Linked DNA regions of Homo sapiens: regions 2 and 3 are each linked to region 1. Evidence: fine-mapped expression QTL. A gene starts in region 1. Each other region holds a variant in brackets. All regions are shown on one strand. Distances are from middle to middle. Region 1 holds the start of NSMAF (neutral sphingomyelinase activation associated factor). Region 2 overlaps NSMAF (neutral sphingomyelinase activation associated factor). Region 3 overlaps NSMAF (neutral sphingomyelinase activation associated factor).

The links.
Region 2: its variant is fine-mapped to the expression of NSMAF in whole blood (TOPMed, PIP 0.99).
Region 3: its variant is fine-mapped to the expression of NSMAF in whole blood (TOPMed, PIP above 0.99).

What each region holds. Positions count from the first base shown.
Region 1 is chr8:58,657,450-58,662,680 of GRCh38, forward strand. It overlaps NSMAF (neutral sphingomyelinase activation associated factor), which reads right to left and starts at 2,404. Exons shown (of 31, transcript NM_003580.4): 1 at 2,124-2,404. The coding sequence starts at 2,182. It overlaps LOC124902083 (small nucleolar RNA U13), which reads right to left and starts at 4,895; the gene lies at 4,792-4,895. RefSeq lists enhancers at 844-1,407, 942-1,231, 1,408-1,970 and silencers at 1,682-2,131, 2,142-2,481.
Region 2 is chr8:58,592,079-58,597,309 of GRCh38, forward strand. It overlaps NSMAF (neutral sphingomyelinase activation associated factor), which reads right to left. Exons shown (of 31, transcript NM_003580.4): 22 at 3,482-3,581; 23 at 2,154-2,212. Among named protein-coding and RNA genes, the nearest start is that of SDCBP, 41 kb to the left of the region's middle. RefSeq lists enhancers at 2,549-3,748, 4,098-4,147. The variant C/T (reference allele first, on the strand shown) is at 2,334.
Region 3 is chr8:58,600,703-58,605,933 of GRCh38, forward strand. NSMAF (neutral sphingomyelinase activation associated factor) reads right to left here. Exons shown (of 31, transcript NM_003580.4): 12 at 5,225-5,231; 13 at 2,508-2,684; 14 at 1,356-1,435; 15 at 743-833; 16 at 583-646. Among named protein-coding and RNA genes, the nearest start is that of SDCBP, 50 kb to the left of the region's middle. The variant G/A (reference allele first, on the strand shown) is at 3,220.

The DNA.
Region 1 (5,231 bases):
ATCCAATCCATTTGCTAATTTGTGTTTATTGATGCAAGGGGATAAACCCGGAAAAATCTGGGCAGAAATGGTAAATTTGGGGCTTAATAAAGTTGCCTTAAAATATTCCTCTGTTTCAGAATGAATTCTAAGATTTATAAAAGAGACTCCTTGATTCCAGTGCATACCTGATGTGAGACAGATTCCTGTCATTCAAATGCATATTCTATGCATTGAATGGAGTATGCCCATCAGCCCAGGTTGCAAAGCCATGGGGCAGAGCACTAAACAATTTGGGCACTCAGCAAGTTATAATTCAAATAAATATAAAACACATGGCGCCAACTTTTTCAGATGACTGATGCTCAGGAACAGTTGATGCCTCCTGACTGGATAGATAAATGTTTTGGTTGCCAAGAGCTAGAGTTCTCTCTGAACACTGCCAGCCTATCACGTTGTTGTCTAATCAATGAATTCTAACAAAGCAGCATATACATGGAAATGCAAGTACAGGTTTCAAGGTTTGTGTGACACCACGGAGCTGTATGAGCTAGCCAAATTGAACACAAATTACTTCATCGAAATAACAGCCAGAACCAAGGAAAAAACGTTTCCCTGTATATCAAAAAGGCCAATATGAGTATTGGCACGAATGACTCATATCATACAACATGATGCCAATTCAAGTGTGTCAAAGTTCTCACAATTTAAATATGAATGTTCACCCACTCAATACAGAGCACCAACAAGTCTTAATATTGTTGGTACTAAACAAAGAATCTCCACTCAAGCTCTTTCCACAAGAAAAATGCATTACAAATTCAGTCAGAAGGGCATCCCCAAGTGTGAGTTACATAGTTAGGGCTCAGTTATTTAATAAACAACCCTTTCTGTGACTAAAACCTAATCACATCACCAAAAACATTTTTGAAAGCCATATCTGAGATACGTTTTCTGTGTATCGTATCTTCTTCTCTACAGTAGAAAAATGACATTTCGTACTGTGGACACACTGGTTAGACCAACATTACAGATTAGAGAAAGATGAATGTCTGGATCAAAGGGGTCGAGTCAACCCTTATAAAACAAGTGTAGACAAATCTTGAAGTCTGCACTTGTATTCCCACGTGTAACCTGCTTTGCTGGTATTCACTGATGAGACAACGTGACAGGCTAGCAGCACTGGAAGATCTGTGGCTCTCACAATCAAAACAGTGTGTCTGTAAAATGATTCAGCCCCCCTTTCCTTTTGGCATCTGAGCTGCAGACCGAGCAAGTTGTTTCTGTCACCAAAAATGCCCTGGGAACTATACATAGAGCCGAAGTGAGCTTTCTTATGAGACTTCCCTTGGGGACAGGTCCAGCATATCTGAAAGGGAACTGCTGTGAGACCATTTTAGCTCAAGGGATCCCAAATCCTTACTGGGATGCTGGTGAGAATGAGTGCTCCGCTGCCGCACCGCGATTTCGACTGCAAAGCTTTCCAACACAAGGTCCACTGCGCGGGGAGCAAGTGTTTGGGAGGCAGGACCTTGGCTTTCCTCAGAATCAGGCCTTTCCGGCGGCCCCCCTCCCAGCCTTCCAGGGCATGGAGCTAGTCCTGTGTCTAAAGGAGTCGGCAGGAAAAAGGCGCGGCAATGCGAGTGGGTGGTCGCCGGCCTGCTCGGTGCCGCCCGGCGACCAACTCTGCGGCGCCGGCGCCGAGTGCCTGGACCCGATTAAGGGGAAGGATTAGAAAGGGGGTGCCCGCCGGGCAGCGTACTCACCCTCCCCTGCGAACGCCCGGGCTCGCGTGCCGGGATCCACGCCCGGACCCCGCGCGGCCTTCCGGGTGAGCTGCCCGCGGCCGCCGGGACCTGCACTGCCGGATAGCTCGGCATGCCTCGGCTCCGCGGTGGAATCTGGCCTGGCCCGTCATCCAGTTCCTGTCCCCGGCAGGCTCCGGCCCAGACCAGGCCCCCGGCCTCTCACCCCGACCTCAGGTTTCCGCCACAGCCCCCAGCCCAGGCCCTGGACACGCGTCCGGCCCCTGCCTCCGTGCCCGGCCCCCACGCCGCCTCCCGTCCCTCAGATCTCCGGCCGGCGTCCCCACGACCGGCCCCGACTAGGCCCCCGGCTGGGCCCTTCTTCAGCTGGGCGCGCACCTCTCCTTGGAGTAGAGCTGCAGCTGCTGCTCCTGCTGCTTCTTCCGGATAAACGCCATGGAGGGTAGGCGCGGGCGGGCGCAGAGCGCACAGGCAGGCCCCGCCGCCGCCTGCCGAGGAGGTCCGGAGGAGCCGGGGAGGGCGGGATTGGTGGCCGGCTGGGGAGCGCGCGGCTGCCGGCCTGGCTTCCCCTGCGGCGCCGCTGGGCGGCCGAGAGCCCGACGCGGCGTCCCGGCCGCGCTCACCGCAGCATCCTCGCGTGGGGACTCCGGCGGCACCGTGACTCAGGCCCGGAGGAGGGGCGCGCGGTGACACGAGGCGCCCCAAACTCAGGCCGCCTCAGAGGATCGCCAGGGCCAGCGGCCAGACCAGGATCCGACCTCACACACTAAACGTTTCACCACTTTACCAACCATTGCAGGCTGCGTTTTAAATATTTTACGCATAAAAAGGGATGCTGGCCCATAAACCACCAATCTGTTGGCCACAAAGACTTGAAATAACAACGTTTTGTGTCCTCCATTGTGAAAAAAAAAAAAAGACGGAAGTTAAAGGGGTGAAGGCAACTCAGTCGTAACTATTCCAAATACACCAGGAATAAGTGGAGATTTATAGCCAAGGAGCAAGGAGCAGGTGTTCGGAAAACTGCTAAGAGGAAACATCAATTCTGGGGGAAATTCTGGCTGAACCAACCTAACAGGAGTCCCAGTGAAGGCAGGCCAGGGGGTCAGATACTAAGGGTAGGAGTAAAGAATTTTGATCACATATGGAGGGTGGGGGATTCTTGCTAAACTGCCGTGGCAGTGTTACTTCCTAACACTGCATTTACAAGGAAGTGCACACAAGGACCTGGGAGAAGATTCAGAAGCCTAACTGAAGTTTGGCCAAGCAAAGAATCTTTAACACAGTCTCTTGATTGTTGAGATAATTGCTCGCATGATTTTTTTTTATATAACAGCTTTATTGGGATATAACTCACATACCAAACAAGTCAACCATTTAAAGTATACCATTCAGCGATTTTTAGTATATTTCCAGATATGTTCAACAATCACCACAATTTGAGAACATTTTCATCACATGTAAAAGAAACCCATACCCTCTAGCTGTCACTCTTCCTAACTCTACCCTCCAAACCCCAGCCCTAGCAAACAATAATCAATTTCCTGTCTCTATGGGTTTGCCTATTCTGGATATTTCATATAAATGGAGCCATACAATATGTGGCCTTTTGTGTCTGGCTTCTTTCATTTAGCGTAATGCTTTCAAGGTTCATCTATGTTGTAGCATGTATCTGTACAGTACTTCGTTCCTTTAGATTGCTGGAGCATATTCTGTTGCATTTTGTTTATCCATTCATCAGTTGATGGACATTTCAGTTGTTTCCACATTTTGGCTATTGTGAATAAGGCTGCTGTACACAGTCATGTACAGTTTTTTTATGGACCTATGTTTCCATTTCTGTTGAGTGGAATTGGAATCTAAGAGTGGAATTGCTGGATGTGGAGGCGAAAGCAGCTCCATCTTGGAAGCTAATCCTCCGTGTTGACTTCTGATTGACCCCAGTTCTGGGAAGGCCTCTAAGATTTCTACTTTATCTATTGTTCCTTGTGTAAGAGCAGGTATCTACCCAGTATGTTCTGTCCTTAATTCAAACAACTTGATGTTATTATACTTCAATTGTCCTACACATCCCTTCTGAACCACCCCTCCCCTATGGTATATAAGCCCTAAGGGGCTGGAGTGATGGCTCATGCCGGTAATCCCAATGCTTTTGGAAGTTGAAGCTGGAGGATTCCTTGAAGCCAGGAGTTCGAGACCAGCCTGGGCAACAAAGCAAGACCCTGTCTCTACAAAAAATAAAAAATAAAAATTACCTGGGTACAGTGGCACACACCTATAGTCCCAGCTACTGGAGAGGCTGAGGCAGGAGGATTGCTTGAAGCCAGGAGTTCGAGACCAGCCTGGGCAACAAAGCAAGACCCTGTCTCTACAAAAAATAAAAAATAAAAATTACCTGGGTGCAGTGGCACACACCTATAGTCCCAGCTACTGGAGAGGCTGAGGCAGGAGGATCACTTGAGTCCAGGAGTTTGAGGCTTCTGTGAGCCATGATCGTACCACTGCACCCCAACCTAGGCAATACAGAGAGAGAGAGACCTTATCTCAAAAGAAAAAAAAAAAAAAACATTGAGTCTGGGGGTTAATAGCACAGCAATCCACCATCTCATCTTGCTGCCCAAGACACAGATATGGACATGGCTTCTGTTCCTTAGTCGCTATTAAATGTTTCTTCCCAAGGAACTTTATTTGTCAGCCTCTTTCTTCCACCTCCCGGCATCCCAGGACTTTGAGATAGATTTGTATAGGCCTGCCCACCATGGAACTGGGTCATATGGTAACTCCATGTCTAAATGTTTGAGAGACTGCCAGACTGTTTTCCAAAGTGGCTGTACGATTTAACATGCCCACCAGCAGCGTAGAAGGGTTCCAGTTTCTCTACATCTTTACCAGTATTTATTATTACCTGACTTTTGTTTAGAGCTATTCTAGTGGTATGAGTGGTATCTCAGTGTGGTTATAACTTCTTAATATATGCTGAGAATGAGCCTCTGATTGTTTACCTTTGAGGGATTCTTGAATAACACGCCTCTAAGTTTCTTTTTCACGTTAAACAGGTAATGTGCCAAACTCGTAACAAGGTTCAAGGGCGGCACATCACACAGCTGCACATGAACACCCAATCATCACACTTATGAACTACAAAAGGATCCAAACCTCTAAATTGTATGCTTGTGGAAACATATCTCATACTGTCTTAAGGATCAGGTTTTGCAGGGTTACATTTTTAGAAGCTTCAAGGTAAATGTACATCTCAGCTTTCTCTAGTAAGTCGCAGGACTGTGAAGAGAAGGTAGGGAAACCAAGAATAAAAGTTGTGGCTGGGTCTTTTGAATTTGACCCCTAGCAGCACTGGACAAAATGCTATGTATACTGAGCACACCCATTAAAAATTTTGGGAATGAATGAAGGTGCCTGGGTACCCTTTGACTGTGACTGAGTCCCTTCCACGTGTCCAAGTGCAGTGCAGAACCTGTAACACATTAG
Region 2 (5,231 bases), 65 kb before region 1:
CCCTGAGCAGTATAATTAGATCTGATAGTCTTCCCAACCTTGCTTTTGATTCTCTTAGGCAATTCTGAGCATTCACCACAAAATCTATTTAAGATGATTAATTTGAGACATCCTACAAAAAAAACCAGAAACCAGTCGGTTCTATAAAGATGTTTTTCTCTCCTTGATGTCTAGTGGTTAGGATTTGGTGCTCTCACTGCAGCAGCCTGGGTTCATTTCTCAGTCAGGGAACCAAAAAAATGGAAAAAGAAAATAATAAAAGAAAAAAAAAGACGTTTTTCTTGAAATCAAGGATCCCCTGTACTAGAGGTCATCATGTTAAAGACTGCAGTAAAAGCTAAGCTCATAAGTGGTGGGTTCTGTGCCTGCCCACATACCTAAACATACTGTATACTAGAAGAAGATATGTAATTTTGGGGTGACCATCAGGATACATATAAATCAGTAATATGAATTATGAAAATCTAAATATGAGAAAAACAAACAGAAAAAAACAAAAGCTTTTGACTTTATTTTTAAACTCTCTCGGCCGGGCGTGGTGGCCCATGCCTGTAATCCCAGCACGTTGGGAGGCCGAGGCAGGTGGAACACCTGAGGTCAGGAGTTCAAGACCAACCTGGCCAACATGGTAAAACCCCATCTCTACAAATATACAAAAATTAGCCAGGCACGATGGTGGGTGCCTGTGAACCCAGCTACTCAGGAGGCTGAGGCGGGAGAATCGCTTGAACCCAGGAGGCGGAGGTTGCAGTGAGCCAAGATCGTGCCATTGCCCTCCAGCCTGGGCGACGGAGCAAGACTCTGTCTCAAAAAAAAACAAAAACAAAAACAACAACAACAAAAAAAAAACCTCTCTCTCCTTTATTGTGAAAATCCACAGAGGAGTGACATAATGCTTAATAAGCCTCAGTGGTTTGAAGCCACAACGCTCATCAAATTCATGGTTAACAAGGTCATACAAGTACAACTGTGCTGAACGATTTAACAAGCCATCCCAGACAAATCCTGCTAAGAACACAGGTTTTGCTTAAAGATAAAGCACTTTGTCTGAGGCTATAATTTTTGGCAAACTCCACAGGTAGAAATCCTGGCAAAATACAGATTGCTTCCTTCTATCAGAGAAGTGCCTCGGTGACCCTGGCATGGCCCAGTTTGGGAACTGCACATGAACTTCCTTTTGATCTACTGTGTAGAATCACTTCTATGCTTTGTGGAAAATTTTTTTATATACAATCCAAGACAGTATTTGAAAAAGAACAGAATGAAATGCTACAGATCATAAACAATGATAACAGAATCTGAGAGTAGTAATTCTGATTTTCCTGAAAGTGTTTAGTTGGATAGCACTTTGTCTTAATGAATGAAAAATATAATCTCCTATGATAAAGACTAAATAACGAGTAGCCTTACTTTATAAAGTTACAAACTTTGTCAGAACAAGTTGTTTTCTCATGGAAGCAGGAAGCAAAGATACTACCCTTCCATCTCTGCATCTTCCAGAGTGCCAACACAGTGCTCTCAACATGACAAGGCCAAGACATACTTTAATGAATAATATATAATGCAGACTACCAGGGAGAGAACAATGGTGTATATAGTAAGGGATGCTTTCTGCTTTACAGCTATAAGTCATATCAATGACACACTGCAAGGGTTTTTATAATTTTGATAATGTATAAGCATATTAAATAATACATGAATTTGATTTTGAGCTAAATCAAATATCCCGAAGAAATATACACTGAATGACAAAACTGCAAACCGTAACAGCAAATCTGCATTTCCACGTGCTGACAGGCACACATCAATTTCTGATACAGCACTTGCTACTCACAGCCAACCCCAACAAGTGGACAGCGCACCTCTCATGGGCAGGCAGGAAGTGCCTGACCCAGCAAGGGTGTGGAAAGGAGGCTGTTTCTGTCCTCTATCCTCAACTCTGGGAAACCTCATCAGCAACAGAAAGATGTTTCATTATTATTTTTGGCAAATTACCATGAAACTCTATGTAATGTACCACAAAGGAACTGCTCTAAGTTTACTTTATGTGGAGGCAGCACATGCAAGTGCAGTCCTTGACCACGAGCTAAATAATAAAGAACTCAGACATTCTAGGATTTTGGTTAAGCCGCCTTTCGGGGAGGAACACTGACCTTGGGATGTTGTGAATACTGAAGATCCATTGCGAGAGACCGTGATTCCAGTAACTGCTCTGCTCAAAAACAAAGTTTCACAAATTACTACTCATCATGTGTTAGGATACCCTCTTTGTTTCATATCCTTGATTTAATTTTACCAAGTTTCCTTAATTTTTTTCTTCACAGCATGTCTGC[C/T]GGATCTGTCCCAGCATAAACCTGCCATTACCAAATCACTGCTTGGCACCTTCTAACGTTCTGGCAACGCCTGTGGCTAGAAAACATCCCCACTCTTTGCTTCCCTGTGTTCCACATGCAATGCTTTACATATTCCTGACAATTTCTGGCAATTGGAAAACTCTTCTCCTTCTATTCCCCCTCGTTTGACCATCACCAAAAGGACAAACTCTTCTTCACAGTCACTTCACTTGCTGATTACTGAAGCTAATTTACTCAGTGACTATTCAATGATGAGAAAATTGGTTCCAGCCTGTCCTCTTAAAGGATCATTCAGTCTTCACTACCTTGGATTACAAGGTCCCTTCCTATGTGCCATTTAGAGAAGTTGAGAAAAGACAGCCATTGTCATCATGAATCAGCCAAAACTCCTTGTTTCTCTTCGGGAGGCTGGACTGTGATGTGAAGCCATCCATCTAATGCACAGCAGTATGCCCAGCTCCACCCATGACCTGTATGCCGGAGGGGCTGTCTGTCGTCATGGAGCTAGGTGGGGCCTAGTCTCTGGACCTGGGTTTCCTCTCTGTAGCAGGATGAACAGGCTAGGTCAGTGCTTCTCGAGCCTTTCTACCAGAGAACATGAAGGTCTTAATGAGAGAGGGCAGAGAACACACATATCATCTCTGGGTCCAACAGCAAGCCCAATTTCTTAGAAGCATAATTATTTTTAAAATTCATGTGAACTTTGCAATGTTCTCTGGGAGAGCTAATTTTTTTAAAAGGTGCCTTTTCACCTACATTATGTGTAAATCCAACACTCGTGGGGTATACATCACACTTCTCCCATCAAAGATTCAAGGAGCTGTGTACTCCAATTTGAGAGGCACAAAACTGGCTGCTCTCTGCCGACCACATCTTGTACTGTGAAGTGACAGACTGCAGAAATGACAGCACGGTAGCCACCACAAATCATTTCGTGCCAAACTTTCCCTACTACATCAACCTCAGGTGGAGATCACTATAGACATTTTGGGGAGATTTTTAAAAATAAAGACAACATTGAAAGGGAATTTTCCCTCTGACTCAGCTTAAAACAGTTTAATCCCATGCCAAGACCCTAACTTTTACCAGGACTATCAGCTGCTGAGAAGAAGCAGAGATATTCTTACTCTTTGTGGATTTTATAGTGCTCGTGTAACTGCAGTTTGGTGATGTTATTCCAGGCCAGTGTTTTGCTTTCTTCGGTCAGGTCTTCAAAAGACTCTTCACCTGGAGAGACGACATTAAATTTTTGCTAAGTCAACTAAGTTACCAACAGACAACAGCATCAGATTAACAATATTTTCTATTAAAATCAAACAACTAAGAAATGAAACACCCTGTCACAATATAACTGCTTTGAAATGTACCTGTTAGATGGTTCCACGTTAGTCAAGGAAAAAATTGTATAGAGAAAGATAAAAAGTATCTTTGAATAATACTAGAATCTTTTTATACTTTAACAATGTTTGCAAAGTTTTCACTCGGCCTCTAACTTATGAATTTGGGGAAATACAAGACTGAGTCATCATTTCCTTGTCAACATTGTTTCAAAAACCTGACAGTTGCCTAAGAATGCAACAATTTTGTTCTGGTGTGGGGTGGGGAAAGCAGAGATGAAATCAATTACCGCAAGGGCTTCTGGCAGGAGTAATCCTTTTACTTCTGCTTTAAGAAGGGCTGAAACAATTACCATCTTAAAACAATCACATGACAGTGGTTACAGCCTGGTGACTAAGCAGAGTGCAGTTTGAAACAGCATCACAAGATAATCCTGTGATCTTCATGATTTAACCCTCTAGAGTATTCTCTCTTAAAGAAGCTACCCCTGGGTCATGTAACTCCAGGAAGCTATTTCTCCATGCTTGAGAGAATGCTCATCTATGTATGCCTAAAATGTCTGGATGTCCTTGGAACAGACAGGAGGATAGGAGATAAAAAGTGATTTTGCTCCCAAAGCTCCACAGAGTGTCAACCTCCTTCTGGAAGCCTGTAGGTTTGAAGTTGTCTTAGGTAAAATCTAAAACCTGGGTAACTGGAGAAAGGTGAGTGTTCTTTCCTACCTTTCCAAATATTAGATGTGAGAACTGGGTCAAGTTCAATTTAGTGCCTAGCACATGCCCAGCGCAGAACAGATACCCTGTAAATGTTTGTCAAATGTTAAATAAGTGAAATCCAATGAAGAAGAGAGAGCACTTTGAATTCAAGATGTATGTGGGGCCGAGCGCGGTGGCTCAGGCCTGTAATCCCAGCACTTTGGGAGGCCGAGGAGGGTGGATCACGAGGTCAGGAGATCGAGACCATCCTGGCTAACACAGTGAAACCCTGTCTCTACTAAAAATACAAAAATTAGCCGGGCGTGGTGGCGGGCGCCTGTAGTCCCAGCTACTCAGGAGGCTGAGGCAGGAGAACGGCGGCGTGAACCCGGGAGGCGGAGCTTGCAGTGAGCCGAGATGGCGCCACTGCACTCCAGCGTGGGGGACAAAGCAAGACTCCGTCTCAAAAAAAAAAAAAAAAAAGATCTGTATGTGGGTATAGAAGAGCATAATTAGGGCCAGAGAAAGTCCCTTCTGGAAGACAGCAGGGCTGACAGTGACTGGGAAGGCAGACTGGACAGCTAGGACTGTAAGAATGAAAAGGCAAATAGCTAAGGATCAAACACCAGCTTCAAAACCACAGAAGAGAAAGAGAACCACATCAAAACATATATGGCCAACTTTCACTCATATTCAATTGCCAGAAAATAAAAGCGATTTGATTTCCCTTACAGTCTATAGCTGAAAACAAACAACATCAGCAAAAACAGGTATCTGTTTTCAGGAGAACTGCAATAAGGCAGGAGAACACAATCATCTCTAAGTAGCACAACAGTATACGTCT
Region 3 (5,231 bases), 57 kb before region 1:
TAGAGTTCAAAAAAAATGAAAAGGACATACCAAAAAATTTACAACAATTATTATCTCAGTGTGGTGGGATACCAAGTAAACTTATTTCCTTTTTTATAGTTGCTGATTTTTTTGGCAAGAAAATATTACTTTTATAATTTAAAAAGTAAAGCCATCTAAATACACACAGGGAGCTGTATTCAATTCACAGCAAAATTATCAAGAATAATAAAGTGTGGGAAACAATCTAAATGCCCAACAATGGAGAAAAGAAGTTGACATAAAATATGGCATATGTTAGAATGTGATACAATAATTTTAAAAAAGAATCATTGTTTTGAAGAATATCTAATAATATGGGAAAAACTTTAAGATTTAATATTAGGCTACAAAAGGTAGGACAAAAAGCTGTACATAAAATATGTTCTCACATTTACACACACATATACATGTCTAGAAAAAGCCTGAGAGGAATAGATAGAACAATTAGTGATTTTTTACATTTCTTTACTTTTTTATTATATCCAGTGCTTTGAAACAAGTATGTTGTATATATACAATCAGAAAGTGTTAAAAATGATAAGCAAGGCATTTGTATCAAACCTGTTGAACATTCTATCTGCATTATCAAATCTTCCATTCTGCAGGCACAGCATATACTCTGGTGCTAGAGGGGAAAAAGTCAGAGGTAAGTCAGGTCACAGAATCATTGAAGAATACAGTGAAATAAAATTTAATTGGGGGTAATGATAAAGAATCTTACCAATCCTAACAAGATAAAAAAGTACATAACCCGGGGAAGAGTAGTGACTCCCATACATGAACTTTGGTTCAGGCATTTCCTGGTAGCGTGTCTAGAATACAGAAAAAAAAAAAAAATAGAGCTAAGTGTTGGCTATGAAATAATAACTGACAAGTAGAAAAAGCCTAAAAGAAATCATAACATAGATATACCATATTCCTTAATTTCTCTGTTAGATAAGAAAAGGAGAAGATAAGAGGGAAAGAAAATCTGTGGCTAAACAGCATTCCTGAGACAAGTATTTTGGTTTCCCTGGCTTAATGGTAACAAAATGTTGGCACTAGATTAAATAGAACTGATTTTATGTGTCTCTTATGCGATTTACCACAGAATGCCTTCATGAAAATAATTCAGTGAACCTGTAAACAGGTTGCCCTCCTCCTTCCTAAACTGCAGACAAGAAATGCAAATGGTGAGCAGCTAATTCACGGTCAGGAGAAAAGTAAGAAAAAACTCTACGTAGAGTCACTGGTATAATTCCCCTAAGCCTTGGAGAAACGAATTTCCTTCCATAAAAACACAGGCCATGGCTTCTCGTGTTGCTTAGAAACCAAGAATCTCTAAGTCCACATACCAGTAGTCTCTCCAGCCGTTCCTTATTTAGGGCCCCTACTGGCTTACTGAGATCCCGGAAGGTTCCTGGATTTGACAAATCTATAAACATAAATCAATAAATAACTTCAGCTTATACTTAGTACCATTAACCTCCTGAATTAATTCAAATATACACATTTACTTCCACAAAAGTTTTTTTAAAAATTGAGAGCAATCCATGAGAGTTATTTTTGTTAGTTATTTATGTAGATGTAAAGAAAAGGTTAGCAATTTTGAGTTTTAAGTTAGACACAACCACTTAAGAGCAATATCTCTAATTTGACAATGCCCTGAACATTAATTTTTTTAAAAAAGTTTCTGATTAAGGAACATATATATATTCCAAGTAAAACAACAACAACAACAAAATTTTAAAAGCCATTATTCTTCTACCAAGATTTACTTTCTACATTCGAATTCTAGTGAATATTATTATTCTTCAATATTAGCCTATTTGAGAACTAGTGAGCTAAATATTTTCAGAGAAATACTTTATCATATTTCTAGAAAATCTATTATCTCTTTCAAGGACAAAGGTTCAAGATAATGTGTCAAGAGGAACTAACTGTTCACAATATATAATTTTTAAATATTACAAAATAAAGTTACAATACAATTACATTTTTCTTAAAATAATCTGTGGTAGCAAGAGAAGAGTAGATATACCCCAAAGGTAAAGTGGTTATCTCTGTAATATAATTATGGATGATTTTAATTTTCTTCTTTGATTATTTCAGGACTTTCCAAGTGTTCTATAACAAATAATCACAGTTTTTAATGTGATTTTTAAAAATAATATAAGGTGAGTGAAATTTTCAAAGTGAGAAGCAAATATTTCAAAACGTGGTACTTATAGGTAATAATGATAACCCTGGGTTAAAATCATGCCCATTTTTTCTGTGTGTGTCCTTCAAGAAGTATGGTGGAAAAAACATACATGAAACACTTACGTAACACTTATATAGTATCCTGGAATGGAAATTGGCAGTCCTTAGCAATACAACTGAAATGAGTTGTAATTTGTTCACATGTCACATCACAATTATAAAATAGAATTTATTCTGTCCTTTAAAAACAATACAGATGACTACTCCCCACTCAACTTGGTCAGAATTCCACGTGTGGCAGTTACCTAGTTCTGAGCTGGAATAATCATGTATTATCCATGGAAACACAGGGTACTGGGAGAGGTCGTTGCAGCTGCGGTCGGCCAGGTTGTTGAGGTGAAGGAGGTACTGATAGTTGGAAAGGTGTCCACGCTGCCACTGCAGCATGTAGCTCTCAGCAGTGTGCTCCGCCACATGGTGCTCTGGGGGAAGAGGACCCACGAGGTCTGCCACTTAACTTCGCAAACTTAGTATGCAAAAGCTAGGGGCTTAACGTGTAGACCATCCCTGTGCATTCTTGAAAAATGCATTGTAAGAAAAAGAAAAGTAGGCTGCTGACTTGTTTTCATAAAGTATTTGTTCAGCTATGTATAAACAGTTCCAAGATCAAGGAGGGGAAATTATTAAATACACTGAGCTATTACACTACCCTCCACAATATGACATAACCTAAACAAATACAAAAGTGTAGCGCAAATATATAAATATTACATGTTAATAGGTAATATTTATACAGTAACAAAGAATCCCTCCAAATGTGCTGTCTCCATGCATTTAAAAACCCATGGCCATCTGGGAAAGCTTATTTCTTTTATTATTTATGAAATTAAAGCAATCTTTTAGTTTTCTTTTAGGCTTGGAAGAGATGTACTACTGCTAATTTGTCAATGACTACATATTATTTATGCATGTGAAGACTAAGGAAAAGAAAAGAAATTGTTAAAGAAGAAAACAGGC[G/A]TTTGGCAGGAGGACCAATTCTCAAACTAAAAGAACCAGACCTGCCCCCTGAAATACCTCAGGAAAAATGAGATCTTAGATAAATGCAGCAATGAGAACTTCCCTTTCAGAGTGTAAAATGAATTAACTGTCCTACAAGTGGATTTTCCATTTTGTTCAGAAAATTCTGCTTTCAACCTTTCCTGATGCATTAAGCATCTTAACTCTTAATATTTATTCTCATCTACTTTTACCAAGTTTCTTCTTTAATCAGCTACTAGGAAAGGGCTTCAAAAATCAAAACACACTTCCCCCTCGTTTTCTACTTTTGAAACCCCTCAGAAAAAGTATGAACAATCTTAGGAATAAACTCAGTGAGAACTGACAGTTTCTTAGAAAATGGATATTTTAGATCATGGCAAAGTTTTTGGCTTGAGATTTTAGGACTCACCATGAAAGTTGATCTTTTTATTGTAATCTTGTTATAGTTAAAAAAAATAAAATTTAAAAACCTAGATCATGAGACAGGAAATTAAAGTAAACTTGTAACAAAGCTATACTTATACATAAAGTTACCTTCAATAGCTTAATGTATGAATAAAATACTAGCTATATATAACTATATATAAACTATATATAACTACATAGATATATATAATATATATATATAAACCTACTTTAAAATAAAATATGTTCCCTACTGAAAGCCAAGTATTCCTCCTTGAAGTAAAATTTCATTTCTAAGGGAAGATGTACTTTACTACAAATTTCACAAATAGTTTTGTGGTACACTAAAATAACAAACACATTAAGATGATATTAATAAAATCCCAATATCCTTTTTTGTTTGTTTGTTTTTTTGAGACAGGGTCTCACTCTGTCACCCAGGCTGAATTGCAGTGGTGTGATCACTGCCCACTGCAGCCTTGACCTCCCAGGCTCAAGCGATCCTCCCACTTCAGCCTCTCGAGTAGCTGGGACTACAGGCACACGCCACCAGTCCCAGCTAATTTTTAATTGTTTTTGTAGAGATGAGGTCAAGCCATGTTGCCCAGGCTGGTCTCGAACTCCTGGGCTCAAGAGATTCTCCCTCCTCGGCCTCCGAAAGTGCTGGGATTACAGTCATGAGCCACCATGCCTAGCCCCAAAATCCATTTTTAAAGATAATTCCTTTCCAGTTATCTAGCAACTTTGTAAACTAGAATAATTTAATTTAGCCTTGCAATGTAATAAAAAAACTTTGGGCTTGAACATCATAATATAAGTATTTTCTCTGGCAAAGGTGGGAAAATTCACATTTTCCATGGAAAACTGAGGAAATATCATTAATTAAAAGCAAATTCCACTCCAAAGTCAGTATATTGAGCATAGAAGGTTCACATGTTCCTTTTGCAGTCTTTCAGCTTTGTGGTTCTGACCACAATCAATGATCACAAACATATGAATAACTCACTGCCTCGCAGTACAAAACTGAGTCTTGGTTCTCATAAACTAATATAAGACCTGACTGAACATAAAAATATTTGAGTGGATTCTTCAAAATCCATTCAATTTGGAGGACGTTAAAATATAAGAGCATTTAAATATATTTATCTAGAGTTTTTAAAACATACATTCAGAATGAACTATTATCAAAGTGAATTTATATTTCCCAGAATTTTAAAAATATTATTTTGGCAATTATAGTTACTGATGAGAAGAAATTAGACCCACAAAGAGGCGATTCTACAAATAGCATTTTTCTTCTCTTATTTCCTATCCCAGATCCTTAGGAGTTGAACTACCTTCATATGAAAAGAAACCCTGTCTCTACTAAAAATACAAAAAAAATTAGCCTGGCGTGGTAGCGGGCACCTGTAGTCCCAGCTACTCGGGAGGCTGAGGCACAAGAATCACTTGAACCCAGGAGGCGGAGGTTGCAGTGAGCCGAGATCACGCCACTGCACTCCAGCCTGGGTGACAGAGCGAGACTCAGCCTCCAAAAAAAAAAAAAAAAGAAAGAAACAATGAAGGGTGAGCGCCAAACCTAGGTA